Homo sapiens: one gene and its partners. The protein of the gene in region 1 purifies or fractionates together with the protein of each later gene. This does not show direct contact. Each region holds a gene or a part of one and is shown in the gene's direction. Other genes may lie near its edges.

Region 1 (3,500 bases):
TCTGCTCTATCCTGGCTCCATCTCCCCTCCTCCCCCTGCCCATCCTGGGGGTCTCCCCCATCTTCCCCTCCTCCCCCTGCCCATCCTGGGGGTCTCCTCCATCTCCTCTCCTCCCTCTGCCCATCCTGGGGGTCTCCTCCATCTCCTCTCCTCCCTCTGCCCATCCTGGGGGTCTCCTCCATCTCCTGTCCTCCCTCTGCCCATCCTGGGGGTCTCCTCCATCTCCTCTCCTCTCTCTGCCCATCCTGGGGGTCTCCTCCTTCTCCTCTCCTCCCTCTGCCCGTCCTGGGAGTCTCCCCCATCTCTCCTCCCACTGCCTATTCTGGGGGTCTCCCCTATCTCCCCTCCTCCCTCTGCCCATCCCAGGGGGTCTCCCCCATCTCCCCCTCCTCCCTCTGCCCGTCCTGGGAGTCTCCTTCATCTTCCCCTCCTCGTTCTACTCCGTCCTTGGGGGGGTCTCCCCCATCTCCCCTCCTCCCTCTGCCCATCCTGGGGGATCTCCCCCATCTCCCCTTCCTCCCTCTGCCTGTCCTGGGGGGTCTCCTTCGTCTTCCCTTCCTCGTTCTACTCCTTCCTGGGGTGTCTCCCCCATCTCCCCTCCTCCCTCTGCTCTTCCTGGGGTCTCCTCCATCTCCCTCCCCACTCTGCCCCATCCTGTGGTCTCCTATTTCCTGTATCCAAGTCTTCCTCTTTTTTCATTTACTTTGGCGTTTTATGCAGAATAACTTCCAGGACTTCCCAGAGAAAGGGATCTTGGGGTGAGCATTTTTGAGGCCGTGGTATCTAAAAGCATCTCTACTCCACCTTCATGGCCAGCAGTCACTTTAGTTTCCCTTCGCCAGCTGGAAGGCCCTGCGCCTGTGCTTAGCTTCCATCCCACTCCCAGCCTTCTGCCTGTGCCCTGCTTCTCGGTGGAAGCCACAGACTTTCCTGTCGTCCTCGGGGCTCTGGAATCTGAGGGTTGCCCAGGTGCGCTGAGGGCAGGTGTGCCCGAGGGTCACCCAGGTGCACTGAGAGCAGGTGTGCCTGAGGGTGGCCCAGGTGTGCCTGAGGGTCGCCCAGGTGCACTGAGGGCAGGTGTGCCTGAGGGTCGCCCAGGTGCACTGAGGGCAGGTGTGCCTGAGGGTCGCCCAGGTGCACCGAGGGCAGGTGTGCTCTTTGTGTCTGCACTGCGCCCCTCTGTTCTGGGAATTCTGTGACATCCTTCGTGGCGCTCGCATTTCCCACAGCTCCACACTTCCATCTGGTTCTGGAGTTTTCTGTCCTGTTGCCTTAATTTTCCCCACCCCTGGCTGTGTGCTGTCCTTGTAAGGTAGATTTTTCTCAGCTTTACCCTCTAACTCTATTATTGAGTTTTTTGTTTCTGCTCTTGCTTTTTAACTCCATGGGCTTATTTTCTGAACAGTCCCCTCTCCATACTAATCATGATGAGTCTGCACAGTCTGTGGCTTCTGTGGGTTTGTTCTGGCGCCAGAGGCTTTCCTGGCGACCCCTGGCTAGGAAGCCTGTGGCCCACGCATCTTTAGCATTTTCTCCCTGGCGGTCTGATTCTTTTCCTCTAATCCCGGCCTGAAAGGAGAGCCTGGCCGTAGCTCAGTGTTCACCTGCCAGGGAACAGACCCTGGGCCCTGTGGAGCAGGGTGCCCAGCTCCTTCCCTCCGACACTCCCTCACCCTGTCCTGTGGAGTCTCGGGACTTGGCCTCTGCTCTCCTCAGGCCCTGCCACTCCCGCTTCCTTCCCGGCCTCCAGGTTTGTGCCCTGGCTGCTCTCTGCCCACCGTGCTGAGTGTTACGCCTTGGAAGATGCTTGCAGGGCTTTAGTGGTGTCTCAAGAGGACACGTCTCACTCTGCAGTCTTCACCCAGAAACTCCACGTTGTGACCGGACAGGCGATCCTGCTATGTATAGGTGCACGTCTGTCTCTATATATTTAACCTAAAAAGTGCATGCACACTGTGGGAAAATTAGAAACAAATAGATTTTTACACACGGGATGCCGCATGTGGCGGCCTCGGCACCCTGTGTGTGGGCATGCGCTGCAAGCTCAGTCCCCGAGCCATGTTCACACGGCTCCCACACTGAAGGCCCTGGGCTCCTCCCCTCTCTGCTGTTAGAAACTCCCCATGTTGAACATCTCTGTGTCTCTGCTTCCTTCACAGCCTGTGGGTGTTGACTCTGGATACATTCCTAGGCTCGGATGGCTGCGGTCAGACCATTTGTTTTTGGAGGTTTCCACGCATAAGCCGTGGCACTCCAGCCGCACCTGCCTCCCGCCGGCTGCCCCGTGGGGAAATGGAGCCCCTAAACAGTGTGCCCTCAGATTTTCTATGCGACAGCTGGACATTCTCTTCACACGTTTATTATTTTTATTTCTGTAGTGAATTACTTGTTCATGCTTTAGACAGTTTTTCTAGGGTTGATCATCACTTCTGTCTATGTTATATGGATCCTTCATGTTCTGCTTGTTTTCCTAGTTTGTCATTTGCCCTCTAGCTTTGCTTATCTTTTAAACAGCCCTTTCTACCTTAAGTTATAGAATTATTAGTGTATTTCATCATAGAACCTTTATGACTTGAATTTTTGTATTTAAATCTTGAAACCAATGACAGCCGATTTTTCCACAAAGTTGGAGGCCAGGCTCCAGCTCTGCGCCACCCCCACTCTGCTCTGCCGAAGCCGCACCTGCCCCTTGCCTGGCAGTTGCAAGACTCTGCCCGTGCTCCTAAGAATCAAGATGCTGTGATTTTCTTCTTGACTCTGGCTCTGTTTACAGACAGCGTATGTGCTGGTCTGTCTCTCCTCTGCTGCATGTCTGGGGTCATTCGGTACCTTCTGATGGTCATGGATCCAGGCAGCTGTTCTCTTCTTCACAACAGGCCTCTCATCTCTGGGCATCTGACCCCTAGTCGCCCCTGGTGTTGCTGTTTAACGACAACATGAAGGGCTTACCTCTGACATTTCCACTGAATCCAGCAGTAAATGCCTCCAAAATAAGAACCTTGGTCTTGTCACCAGGGCGCGTAGCCACAGGCGCTCCGTCCAGCAGGGCTCAGCCAGGGGCTCCCCCATCTTTCCCAGGCAGCCTCAAGGGGCCAAGCAGCCACTGGCCTGAAGAATATTTCTGGAATATGCTTACCATATTAACCAGTTTCAAAATGGAAAGTCCTGGATCTATTGTTCAATGATTTTAATGTCCTTTTCCAAACAATGAAAATAGTTTGGAGCTTGAGCCTCAGAGGCCCGTGCCACCTCTCATCAGTCGTGTTCATTCACGGGTGGTTACGCAGCCAGGCTGTCAGCCCTGTGCAGCGTGTACTCAGGACATGACCAAGACGCATCCCTCCCTCGGTCCTGCTAAATCCTAGAGTGTGACTTCTTCGCATGTTTAAATATAAAATGTTCTTCCCCTGTGTAGATCAAATCATAGTTTGGAAAAGAACTAGAGAAATGCCTCGGTCCTTTGGTGCCTGCTCTCGAGAATGAGAGGCAGCAGCAGGCAG
Region 2 (3,500 bases), on another chromosome or scaffold:
AGCCCTAGCTTAAGGTTTTGGTGTTTTTTGTTTCTTGTTTTTCATCTTAAAGGCCCTGAAAAGTCCTGTAGGAAAGAAACACGTGTGATTTTGCTGGTGGGAGCAAGACGTGCCCAAGGCCGGGGCTGGGGAGGTAGAGAGGAGGGTTTGGATTTGGGAGATATCAGGAAGTTGAAAGCCAAGGACGCATTAAATGTGGGGTGAGGGCGTAAAGAAAGGGAGGGAGGGTGATTTCTCACTGCCTTGGGGGCAGGGAGGAGGGGAGGTGTGGGTGAGATGTTGAGAATTGTGGGAGATGCCCAGGGTGCAGTGGGGCCCGTGGCAGCCGCTGTTGCAGTCTTCAGGTGGCCCTGGAAGCCGTCACGGGGTAGGGTGGCCTGGGGTGGGGGTGGGGCATGTCCATTTACAAGGAGACGCCTGTGGGAGGAAGGTTTCTGGAAGAAGGAGGCACTGGGCACAGAGCCCAGGCGAGATACGGGCCCACAGATATGCTTTGGAGGTCCCTGCTGGCCTTGGGGAGACCGGAAGCCATGAGGGCAGCATCGAGCTCAGGGAAATTGAGGGAGAGGTGGAGGGGGGCTGGGAGGGCAGGGAGGAAGTGAGCCTGAAATACCTCTTCTTTCAAGGAGCCAAGATGAGAGGGGCAAAAAGAAGGTCCAAGTCTACATGCGGGTGGCGCGTTAAGTGGGACGGTCCAGTGTGGTTTTAGAAGGTGGGAAAGGAGCCAGGACAGGGAGGGACAGAAGGCAGCCAAGAGTGCCTGGGTCCTCACAGGTGGAGAAGTCCCGTTCAAATATGTTCTGAAGCACTAGAACCCCTTACCCTGTTCTTTCTTTTCTTTTTTTTTCTTTCTTTCTTTTTTTTTTTTTTAAGACAGAGGCTTGCTCTATCACCCAGGCTGGAGTGCAGTGGCGCAATCTCAGCTGGCTGCAACCTCTGCCTCCCAGATTTAAGCGATTCTCCGGCCTCGGCTTCCCGAGTAGCTGGGATTATAGGCGTGTGCCACCATGCCCAGCTCATTTTTGTATTTTTAGTAGAGATGGGGTTTCACCATGTTGACAAGGCTGGTCTTGAACTCCTGACCTTAAAAGATCTGCCTACCTTGTTTTCCCAAAGTGCTGGGATTACAGGCATGAGTCACTGCACCCGGCCCCCACCCCGTTCTTTCAAACACACACACAGAACCCCAATATACAAAACAAGTCTGGGCACAGTGGCTTACCCCTATAATCCCAGCACTTTGGGAAGCCAAGGCAGGTGGATCACTTGAGGCCAGGAAATTCGAAACCAGCCTGAGCAACATGGTGAGGCTTCCATCTTTATAAAAAAATTTAAAAATTGGCTGGGTGTGGTGGCACGTGCCTGCGGTCCCAGCTACTCAGGAGGCTGAGGCAGGGAGGATCCCTTGAGCCCAGAGTTCAGGTTGCAGTGAGCCATGATCGTGCCACTGCACTCCAGCAAAAACTCAAACAAACAGAGAAGGCTGTGCAGGCTGGGCGTGGTGGCTCACGCCTGTAATCCCAGCACTTTGGGAGGCCAAGGTGAGCAGATCGCTTGAGGTCAGGAGTTCAAGACCAGCCTGGCCAAAATGGTGATAACCCTGTTTCTACAACATACAAAAATTAGCCGGGTATGGCAGCATCGCACCTGTAATCCCAGCTACTTGGGAGTCTGAGGCAGGAGAATCATTCGAGCCCGGGAGGCAGAGGTTGCAGTGAGCCAAGATTGCACCACTGCCCTCCAGCCTGGGCGACAGAGAGACTCTTATCTCCAAAAAACCGCAAAAGCTGTGCAGATTAGAACAAGAGCTGGACAGATTCCCTGCTGTTGATTTCAGTCACCTCTTCCCCGACCCCTGCCAAGCCTTCCTGGCCTTCTCCTCTCCACTCTTGGTCCTACGTGGATTTCTGCCCCCAGCCCACTGTCCACCTGGGGCTTCCTCACGCCTCTTCCCATTGTCCTATTTAGGGACCTCAGGCTGTCTCTATGATGTGACCTCACCATCTCTCTAAGCCCCAGCCTTTCACATAATCTGCCTCAAGGATGTCCTCAAAGCCCCTCACATTCAATTTCACCCCTTCACCTCCCATTCCTCCTGCACCCAAGCTCAGTCATTACCCCTCTCTTCCCTCTTCCCCCTCAGACCCAGCAAGGTCCTGGCTACCTCCCTCTCTGTCCCTTGCCTCCTCCCTTCAATCACCAGGTTTACATCACTCAACTCCCTCGATGTGCCTGTGGTGTGCCCACCTCCCCTGCTCGCCTGTGTGCCCCCCACTCATCCCCCCCTGCCTGCAAGCTAAGAGAGGGCGTCCAGTTTGCTGGGTCTAACCCCAGTCCTGGTGTTGAAGAGTTATTTGGCCTGGGGCAAGGGACTTTCCTTCTCTGTGCCTCAGTTTCCTCCTCTGTAACATGGGGGTTGCCAATTGGGCCCTGGCTGCCTCCTAGCGTTGATGTAAGGCTCAGTGAGTCTACATTGGCAAGAGCAGGAAGGCTCTTAGGATTGCCGATGTTATTGTCTTTCCTGGGACCTACAAGAGCCAGTCCAGCTGGCCTGGTATTGGGGGTAGCCTCCCCTCCTTTCCACTCTAAGTGCCCATCAGCTCCCTGAGGCACCGTGTTCTCTCCCACCTGCTGGGCTTTGCATCTGCAGGCCCCTCTGCCTACAACGCCATCACCCCTTCCTCCAGCAAACTCCTGCACATCTGCACTCTCAGCCCAGATCCCCTTTCTCCTTTCCCAATGCCATCCTCCCTGGTCCAGACACACTCTTAATCCGGGCCATGTGGTGTGTGTGTGTGTGTGTGTGTGTGTGTGTTGTATCTGGTGACCCTGACCCCCGTGTTTCCCCTCTATGCCCCCACAGAGCACGTGCCCCCGGAGCTGTGGGAGCCCTTCTATACCGACCAGTACGCGCAGGAGCATGTGAAGCCCCCGGTGACACGGCTGCTGCTCTCAGCCGAGCTCTACTGCAGAGCCTGGCGCCAGGCACTGCCACAGCTTGAAACACCCCCCAACCCCTCTGCACTGCTGGCCCTGCTGGCGCGGAGGGGCACAGTGCCTGCTTTGCCCGAGCGCCCGGTGCGCGAGGCCGACCTGAGGCACCAGCCCATTCTCATGGTAGGCCCCGCCACTGCCTGTTAGACCACGCCTACCATGCTCAGCTCCTCCCCTCAAGCTCCTCCCGCCAGTCCTGGCTCCTCCCAAGTTCCCTCTATCAGTCTTGGCTCCTTTCAAGCTTTGTCGATTAAGCCTAGCTCCTCCCATCAGGCTTGGCTCCTCCCCCAGGTTCCTCCCACCAGGCCTGGCTCCTCCCCTCAAGCGCTATTAAGCCTAGTTCCTCCCACGAGGTCTGGCTCCTCCCCTCAAGCGCTATCCATTAAGCCTAGCTCCTATCAGTCTTGGCTCCTTCCCTTAAGCTATGTCCATCAAACCTAGCTCCTCCTATCATCAGTCTTGGCTCTGTCCCTTAAGCTCTGTCCATCAAACCTAGCTCCTCCCAC
Region 3 (4,086 bases), on another chromosome or scaffold:
TTGAGCCCAGGAGTTCAAGACCAGCCTGGGCAACACAGTGAGACCCTCCCTCTCCACAAAGCATAAAAAAATTAGCTGGGCGTGGTAGTGCATGCCTGTGGTCTTAGCTATTGGGGAGGCTGAGGCTGGAGGATTTCTTGAGCCTGGGAGGTTGAGGCTGCAGTGAGTTACAATCACCACTGTACTCCAGCCTGGGTGACAGAGTGAGACCCTGATTCAAAAACAAACCAAAAAAGTGATTTTTTTTTTTGGAGGGGAGATGGGGAGAAAGAACAGAGCTGTCTTTTGTGTTTATGATAATTTTGATCTTGTTTCTTAATCTGCAAAACAAAGAAGAGCATACTGGTGAAAAATAAAAGGAATGTAGCCTAGAATTCTGTTCAAATCCAGCTTCTGGCACTAGCAACTGTGTTATCTTAGTGAAGTTACTTAACTCGTCCCTCAGCCTTACTTTCCTTGTGTTATGTATAACACAGATGATAGTGATACCTATCTTGTACGGTGTGTGTGTGTGTGTGAGAGAGAGAGAATTGAATGGAATGAGATAATACATGTGAAACCCCCGTCCATGAGAGCTTGGCATATAGTAGGTGCTCAACAAATGGCAGGGACTTCTCTTGTTCTCAGCAATAACACTTAACAGAGCATTGGTAGGTCTATCCCTTTTTGGTGCTGAAAAATATTTTGCTAAAACAAGACGTATATTTGAGATTGGCTTTATGTGAAAGACGACGACATTCCAGGACACACAATTTTTATGAGGGCATTTTTAACCGGACACAAGGATCAAGCCTTTCTCGTCGTCTGGATTGCAGAGTTTTGCCGCGGGTTCGTTGTTTTTTACTATGGCTAATTTTAACGCTGAACATGAAGGGGTTAAGAAATGCCTTTACTCATGTTACATTAAGTAGCAGAAATTATAAGATAGAGGAATTGGGGAGGGAAAAAAAAAAGCCTTGGCAGCAACTCATGGTTTCCTAAGTAAGACGGCTTGTAGTTACAGTGATGAGTTGAATATACGTTCTGGCAGTTTAATCTGATCAGACTAACTTGGGGGTGGGTGCAACCCGTCGCTTCCACCCTTCGCCTCCTTTAACCAAAGCCGCCCAGAGTGCAATTGTCCAGAGTTGAAACCATGCTGTGAGTTGCAGCTTCTAATTGGAGAGGCAGGAAGCCCTTCCCTGGACAGACCCCGCCCCTCCCCGTGTGAATCGCCAGCCTGCGGGGAGGAGCTGGCCAATGCTAATGAGCGAGTTGCCAGGCGAGACAGGAACTTCTTTCCCCTTCTCTGTGTCAGGATCGCAGAAAGTATGTCCCTTCTCTCACCATGAGCTGGCTCTCCAGTTCCCAGGGAGTGGTACTAACAGCCTACCACCCCAGCGGCAAGGACCAGACCGTCGGGAACAGCCATGCAAAGGCAGGGGAGGAAGCCACCTCGAGGTAAGCCTTCGGAAGCTGAAAACAAAACAAAACCCTCTTACCTGCTCCAGGAAGAAAGTGACAGGGAAGTTGGCGTGGGGAGAAGGGAATTCCATCTGCACGTCGAGCCTGAGCTCGTGCAGCAGCAGTAGCAACGTTTGGCGTGATTTTTATGTACTTTTCATCTCACCTAGTCCAAGTCTGAAATAACCCATATGATTACTGGTGAAGACAGAGAAGAAGGAACTGGGGAGAGGGCTATATGGGCTGTCAGACTAGCTATTTAGCAGGTGCATTTGCACATGCTGAAAGATCAAATAGGTCTATCTGAAACACTTCCTTTCCTATGAAATGGAATTCTTGAATGGGCTCAAGGCACTGCCACTGGAACTGTTCGCTGGGAAAGTCTGCCAAAAAGCAGGGAGGCTGTTCACTGTACTGTACAAGCTGTTGTTGTTAGAGTGTTTTTTTTCCCCCCTCTCTTTGCTGAAAGCAAACCTCTTAGGCAAAAAGCCCAAGACACTGGCCTGTGGCAATATGTTTCACATTCTTTTGTGTATGTGGATTTTTTTTCCCCCAGGCTTTCAAAAAGGAGTTTTTGTCAGGAGATAGCACTCTGCTGCTGGAGTGAAATGTGGTTAATGTTAAATCACTTTATAGGCAGAGAGGGCAAATGTTCTATAGACCACTGAGGCGCAAAGGGTACCTTTCTCCCTATCTGTGTACTTTGTTCCATTTTCCAAGGGCTTTTTTTTTTCTTTCTCTCCTTAATGACCTTCTCACTAGCTGAACATTTTTACCTCCATCAAGATATAAATAGTAAATATTGGCCTAGAAGATTGCAAGAAGCAAATACTAACCTAATAGCCTAGAACACTAAATTAGTTATCGGTAAGCACATTTCCTCCTCAATGCTTAATGTGATAATAAAACCTTCTTTGTTCTTATGTGACTTATGCCTGTGCCTTAAGCTGAAATAATGCTGCCTTTCATTTGTTTTAAAATCTCCAAATATGAGGGAGGGAGAAAAATCAAAGGAATGGCTGTAATACTCAGTGTTAGACTCCCAGCTGACGGGAACTGTTTCTCACATAGCATCCACAGTATGTATTTCATTGAATGAATTCATTTCCAAAGATAAAAAAGATTTGGTGCTTGTGCCTTAGCTGTGTTACCATTTCATTTTCCATCATTTTAAATGACTTAATGTTAAATCATTAAATCAAGAGATCTTGAAGTGTTTTCATCCATTTTTCTGTAATGTATTAGTAATCATTAAGCAGTAAAGCAGCCTGCAACACCAACCCCATACCCAGCCATAACTTGGATTCCACATGTCAGTCAAAATTGCCAAAATTATACAAGCTCAGGACATTCTCCGACTTTAGGCTGAATGGCCTGAGGACCTGAGCTGAATCTTGGATCTTGATTGTGAGAATGGAAAGGACCTTAAGGACTGAGTCCTAACCTCTCATTTTCACGTAGGACTCAAACCCCAGGGATTAGTTAAGTTTTTGGAAGGTCTGGAGTTCTAGGCCTTTGTCTGGGGCTGCATCTCCAGTTCTGGAGACTCATTATTCTGTGTTTGCAGTGTGGGTGGCCCATACTTGAGTGGGTTGAGAGAATAAGAGAGGATCAGATCATTCTCTGCCTAGGCTGAAGCAGAACCAAGAGGCACTAAGGTGGCAGGGTGGGCAGCTGCCCACACGGCAAGTGCCCTGTGTGGGGCCACAGCTCCAGGTGAGCTCCTTTGCTGGCTGTCACGTAGCCTGCCCATACCAGACCCAACTTCCCACCACTGAATTAGTTCTAGGGATCGTTCCTGATATTGACCGGAGAAGATGGGAGCCTGGTTTGAGGGCAGGGAGGAAGGAGGGAGTAGGGCTAGTTTTCAATGGCTTTTACCCTTAAGGGCTAACGAATCAGATAAACTTGTTGTTGTTTTGGGAGATACCCTGTTTAGCCTGAAAGGATTGAGATACTGTAATTGCTATGGGGGAGGGGATGGATAGAAGGAAGGAGGATTTGAAGGTGGGATGGGGTCCTCGGTGACCACCTAAGAATGGTGATAGTGGTTTCGGGGCGGTGAACTGGACTTTGGCTTTGGCTTTGGCTGGGTTGGTCAGGTGTTGTTTTAAGCCCTGGGAAGCTGCTCCAAGGTGCAAGGTTGATGGTTGATGCCTATTTAAAGAAGTTCTCCAAAAAGTAAAAACAAAACAAAACTCTTAAAAAGGCTACATTAGGCTGGGTGTGATGGCTCACACCTGTCATCTCAGCACTTTGGGAAGCTGAGGTGGGTGGATTGCTTGAGCTCAGGAGTTAGAGACCAGCCTGGGCAAAAAAAAGACCCCCGCCCCCACAGCTCTACCAAAAATACAAAAAAAAAAAAAAAAACAAGAAACCACAAACAAACTAGAAATGGTAGTGCATGCCCGTGGTCCCAGCTACTCAGGAGGCTGAAGTGTGAGGATCACTTGAGGCTGGTGGAGCAGAGATTGCAGTGAGCTGAGATCACGCCACTGCACTCCAGCCTGGGTGAGGGAGTGAGACCCTGTCTCAAAAAATAAATAAATAAATAAAAAATAAAAGCTAAATTAGATTCTGCATTTCCTCCTACCCATTTAAAAATTATAGAAGATAGCACGGAAGTATAACTTTTCTTATCAC
Region 4 (3,500 bases), on another chromosome or scaffold:
ATCCAGTTTCACCTTTCTACATATGGCTAGCCAGTTTTCCCAGCACCATTTATTAAATAGGGAATCCTTTCCCCATTGCTTGTTTTTCTCAGGTTTGTCAAAGATCAGATAGTTGTAGATATGCGGTGTTATTTCTGAGGGCTCTGTTCTGTTCCATTGATCTATATCTCTGTTTTGGTACCAGTACCATGCTGTTTTGGTTACTGTAGCCTTATAGTATAGTTTGAAGTCAGGTAGTGTGATGCCTCCAGCTTTGTTCTTTTGGCTTAGGATTGACGTGGCGATGCGGGCTCCTTTTTTGGTTCCATATGAACTTTAAAGTAGTTTTTTCCAATTCTGTGAAGAAAGTCATTGGTAGCTTGATGGGGATGGCATTGAATCTGTAAATTACCTTGGGCAGTATGGCCATTTTCACGATATTGATTCTTCCTACCCATGAGCATGGAATGTTCTTCCATTTGTTTGTGTCCTCTTTTATTTCCTTGAGCAGTGGTTTGTAGTTCTCCTTGAAGAGGTCCTTCACATCCCTTGTAAGTTGGATTCCTAGGTATTTTATTCTCTTTGAAGCAATTGTGAATGGGAGTTCACTCATGATTTGTCTCTCTGTTTGTCTGTTGTTGGTGTATAAGAATGCTTGTGATTTTTATACATTGATTTTGTATCCTGAGACTTTGCTGAAGTTGCTTATCAGCTTAAGGAGATTTTGGGCTGAGACAATGGGGTTTTCTAGATATACAATCATGTCGTCTGCAAACAGGGACAATTTGACTTCCTCTTTTCCTAATTGAATACCCTTTATTTCCTTCTCCTGCCTAATTGCCCTGGCCAGAACTTCCAACACTATGTTGAATAGGAGTGGTGAGAGAGGGCATCCCTGTCTTGTGCCAGTTTTCAAAGGGAATGCTTCCAGTTTTTGCCCATTCAGTATGATACTGGCTGTGGGTTTGTCATAGATAGCTCTTATTATTTTGAAATACGTCCCATCAATACCTAATTTATTGAGAGTTTTTAGCATGAAGGGTTGTTGAATTTTGTCAAAGGCTTTTTCTGCATCTATTGAGATAATCATGTGGTTTTTGTCTTTGGCTCTATTTATATGCTGGATTACATTTATTGATTTGCGTATATTGAACCAGCCTTGCATCCCAGGGATGAAGCCCACTTGATCATGGTGGATAAGCTTTTTGATGTGCTGCTGGATTCGTTTTGCCAGTATTTTATTGAGGATTTTTGCATCAATGTTCATCAAGGATATTGGTCTAAAATTCTCTTTTTTTGTTGTGTCTCTGCCTGGCTTTGGTATCAGAATGATGCTGGCCTCATAAAATGAGTTAGGGAGGATTCTCTCTTTTTCTATTGATTGGAATAGTTTCAGAAGGAATGGTACCAGTTCCTCCTTGTACCTCTGGTAGAATTCGGCTGTGAATCCATCTGGTCCTGGACTCTTTTTGATTGGTAAGCTATTGATTATTGCCACAATTTCAGCTCCTGTTATTGGTCTATTCAGAGATTCAACTTCTACCTGGTTTAGTCTTGGGAGAGTGTATGTGTCCAAGAATTTATCCATTTCTTCTAGATTTTCTAGTTTATTTGCGTAGAGGTGTTTGTAGTATTCTCTGATGGTAGTTTGTATTTCTGTGGGATCAGTGGTGATATCCCCTTTATCATTTTTTATTGCATCTATTTGATTCTTCTCTCTTTTTTTCTTTATTAGTCTTGCTAGCAGTCTATCAATTTTGTTGACCCTTTCAAAAAACCAGTTCCTGGATTCATTAATTTTTTGAAGGGTTTTTTGTGTCTCTATTTCCTTCAGTTCTGCTCTGATCTTAGTTATTTCTTGCCTTCTGCTAGCTTTTGAATGTGTTTGCTCTTGCTTTTCTAGTTCTTTTAATTGTGATGTTAGGGTGTCAATTTGGGATCTTTCCTGCTTTCTCTTGTGGGCATTTAGTGCTATAAATTTCCCTCTACACACTGCTTTGAATGCGTCCCAGAGATTCTGGTATGTTGTGTCTTTGTTCTCGTTGGTTTCAAAGAACATCTTTATTTCTGCCTTCATTTCGTTATGTACCCAGTAGTCATTCAGGAGCAGGTTGTTCAGTTTCCATGTAGTTGAGCGGTTTTAAGTGAGATTCTTAATCCTGAGTTCTAGTTTGATTGCACTGTGGTCTGAGAGATAGTTTGTTATAATTTCCGTTCTTTTACATTTGCTGAGGAGAGCTTTACTTCCCAGTATGTGGTCAATTTTGGAATAGGTGTGGTGTGGTGCTGAAAAAAATGTATATTCTGTTGATTTGGGGTGGAGAGTTCTGTAGATGTCTATTAGGTCCGCCTGGTGCAGAGCTGAGTTCAATTCCTGGGTATCCTTGTTGACTTTCTGTCTCGTTGATCTGTCTAATGTTGACAGTGGGGTGTTAAAGTCTCCCATTATTAATGTGTGGGAGTCTAAGTCTCTTTGTAGGTCACTCAGGATTTGCTTTATGAATCTTGGTGCTCCTGTATTGGGTGCATATATATTTAGGATAGTTAGCTCTTCTTGTTGAATTGATCCCTTTACCATTATGTAATGGCCTTCTTTGTCTCTTTTGATCTTTGTTGGTTTAAAGTCTGTTTTATCAGAGACTAGGATTGCAACCCCTGCCTTTTTTTGTTTTCCATTGGCTGGGTAGATCTTCCTCCACCCTTTTATTTTGAGCCTATGTGTGTCTCTGCACGTGAGATGGGTTTCCTGAATACAGCACACTGATGGGTCTTGACTCTTTATCCAATTTGCCAGTCTGTGTCTTTTAATTGGAGCATTTAGTCCATTTACATTTAAAGTTAATATTGCTATGTGTGAATTTGATCCTGTCATGATGATGTTAGCTGGTTATTTTGCTCGTTAGTTGATGCAGTTTCTTCCTAGTCTCGATGGTCTTTACATTTTGGCATGATTTTGCAGCAGCTGGTACCGGTTGTTCCTTTCCATGTTTAGTGCTTCCTTCAGGAGCTCTTGTAAGGCAGGCCTGGTGGTGACAAAATCTCTCAGCATTTGCTTGTCTGTAAAGGATTTTATTTCTCCTTCACTTATGAAGCTTAGTTTGGCTGGATATGAAATTCTGGGTTGAAAATTCTTTCCTTTAAGAATGTTGAATATTGGCCCCCACTCTCTTCTGGCTTGTAGGGTTTCTGCTGAGAGATCTGCTGTTAGTCTGATGGGCTTCCCTTTGAGGGTAACCCGACCTTTCTCTCTGGCTGCCCTTAACATTTTTTCCTTCATTTCAACTTTGGTGAATCTGACAATTATGTGTCTTGGAGTTGCTCTTCTCGAGGAGTATCTTTGTGGCATTCTCTGTATTTTCTGAATCTGAACGTTGGCCTGCCTTGCTAGATTGGGGAAGTTCTCCTGGATAATATCCTACAGAGTGTTTTCCAACTTGGTTCCATTCTCCCCATCACTTTTAGGTACACCAATCAGACGTAGATTTGGTCTTTTCACATAGTCCCATATTTCTTGGAGGCTT

What was found.
Region 2: the proteins of PLEKHG4B (region 1) and CAMSAP3 purify together in Homo sapiens (affinity purification with mass spectrometry, with the first as the bait; one large-scale study listed by BioGRID). This does not show direct contact.
Region 3: the proteins of PLEKHG4B (region 1) and ARHGAP18 purify together in Homo sapiens (affinity purification with western blotting; one study listed by BioGRID and IntAct). This does not show direct contact.
Region 4: the proteins of PLEKHG4B (region 1) and DSG1 purify together in Homo sapiens (affinity purification with mass spectrometry, with the first as the bait; one large-scale study listed by BioGRID). This does not show direct contact.

The regions. Positions count from the first base shown.
Region 1 is NC_000005.10:158,168-161,667, forward strand, and holds part of PLEKHG4B (pleckstrin homology domain-containing family G member 4B), read left to right. Parts: intron 1-3,500. UniProt on the Homo sapiens protein: Guanine nucleotide exchange factor (GEF) which specifically activates small GTPase CDC42 by exchanging bound GDP for free GTP.
Region 2 is NC_000019.10:7,602,363-7,605,862, forward strand, and holds part of CAMSAP3 (calmodulin-regulated spectrin-associated protein 3), read left to right. Parts: intron 1-2,863; coding exon 2,864-3,117; intron 3,118-3,500. UniProt on the Homo sapiens protein: Key microtubule-organizing protein that specifically binds the minus-end of non-centrosomal microtubules and regulates their dynamics and organization.
Region 3 is NC_000006.12:129,707,378-129,711,463, reverse strand, and holds the start of ARHGAP18 (rho GTPase-activating protein 18), read left to right. Parts: upstream 1-1,286; 5' UTR 1,287-1,327; coding exon 1,328-1,440; intron 1,441-4,086. UniProt on the Homo sapiens protein: Rho GTPase activating protein that suppresses F-actin polymerization by inhibiting Rho. Rho GTPase activating proteins act by converting Rho-type GTPases to an inactive GDP-bound state.
Region 4 is NC_000018.10:31,349,160-31,352,659, forward strand, and holds part of DSG1 (desmoglein-1 preproprotein), read left to right. Parts: intron 1-3,500. UniProt on the Homo sapiens protein: Component of intercellular desmosome junctions. Involved in the interaction of plaque proteins and intermediate filaments mediating cell-cell adhesion.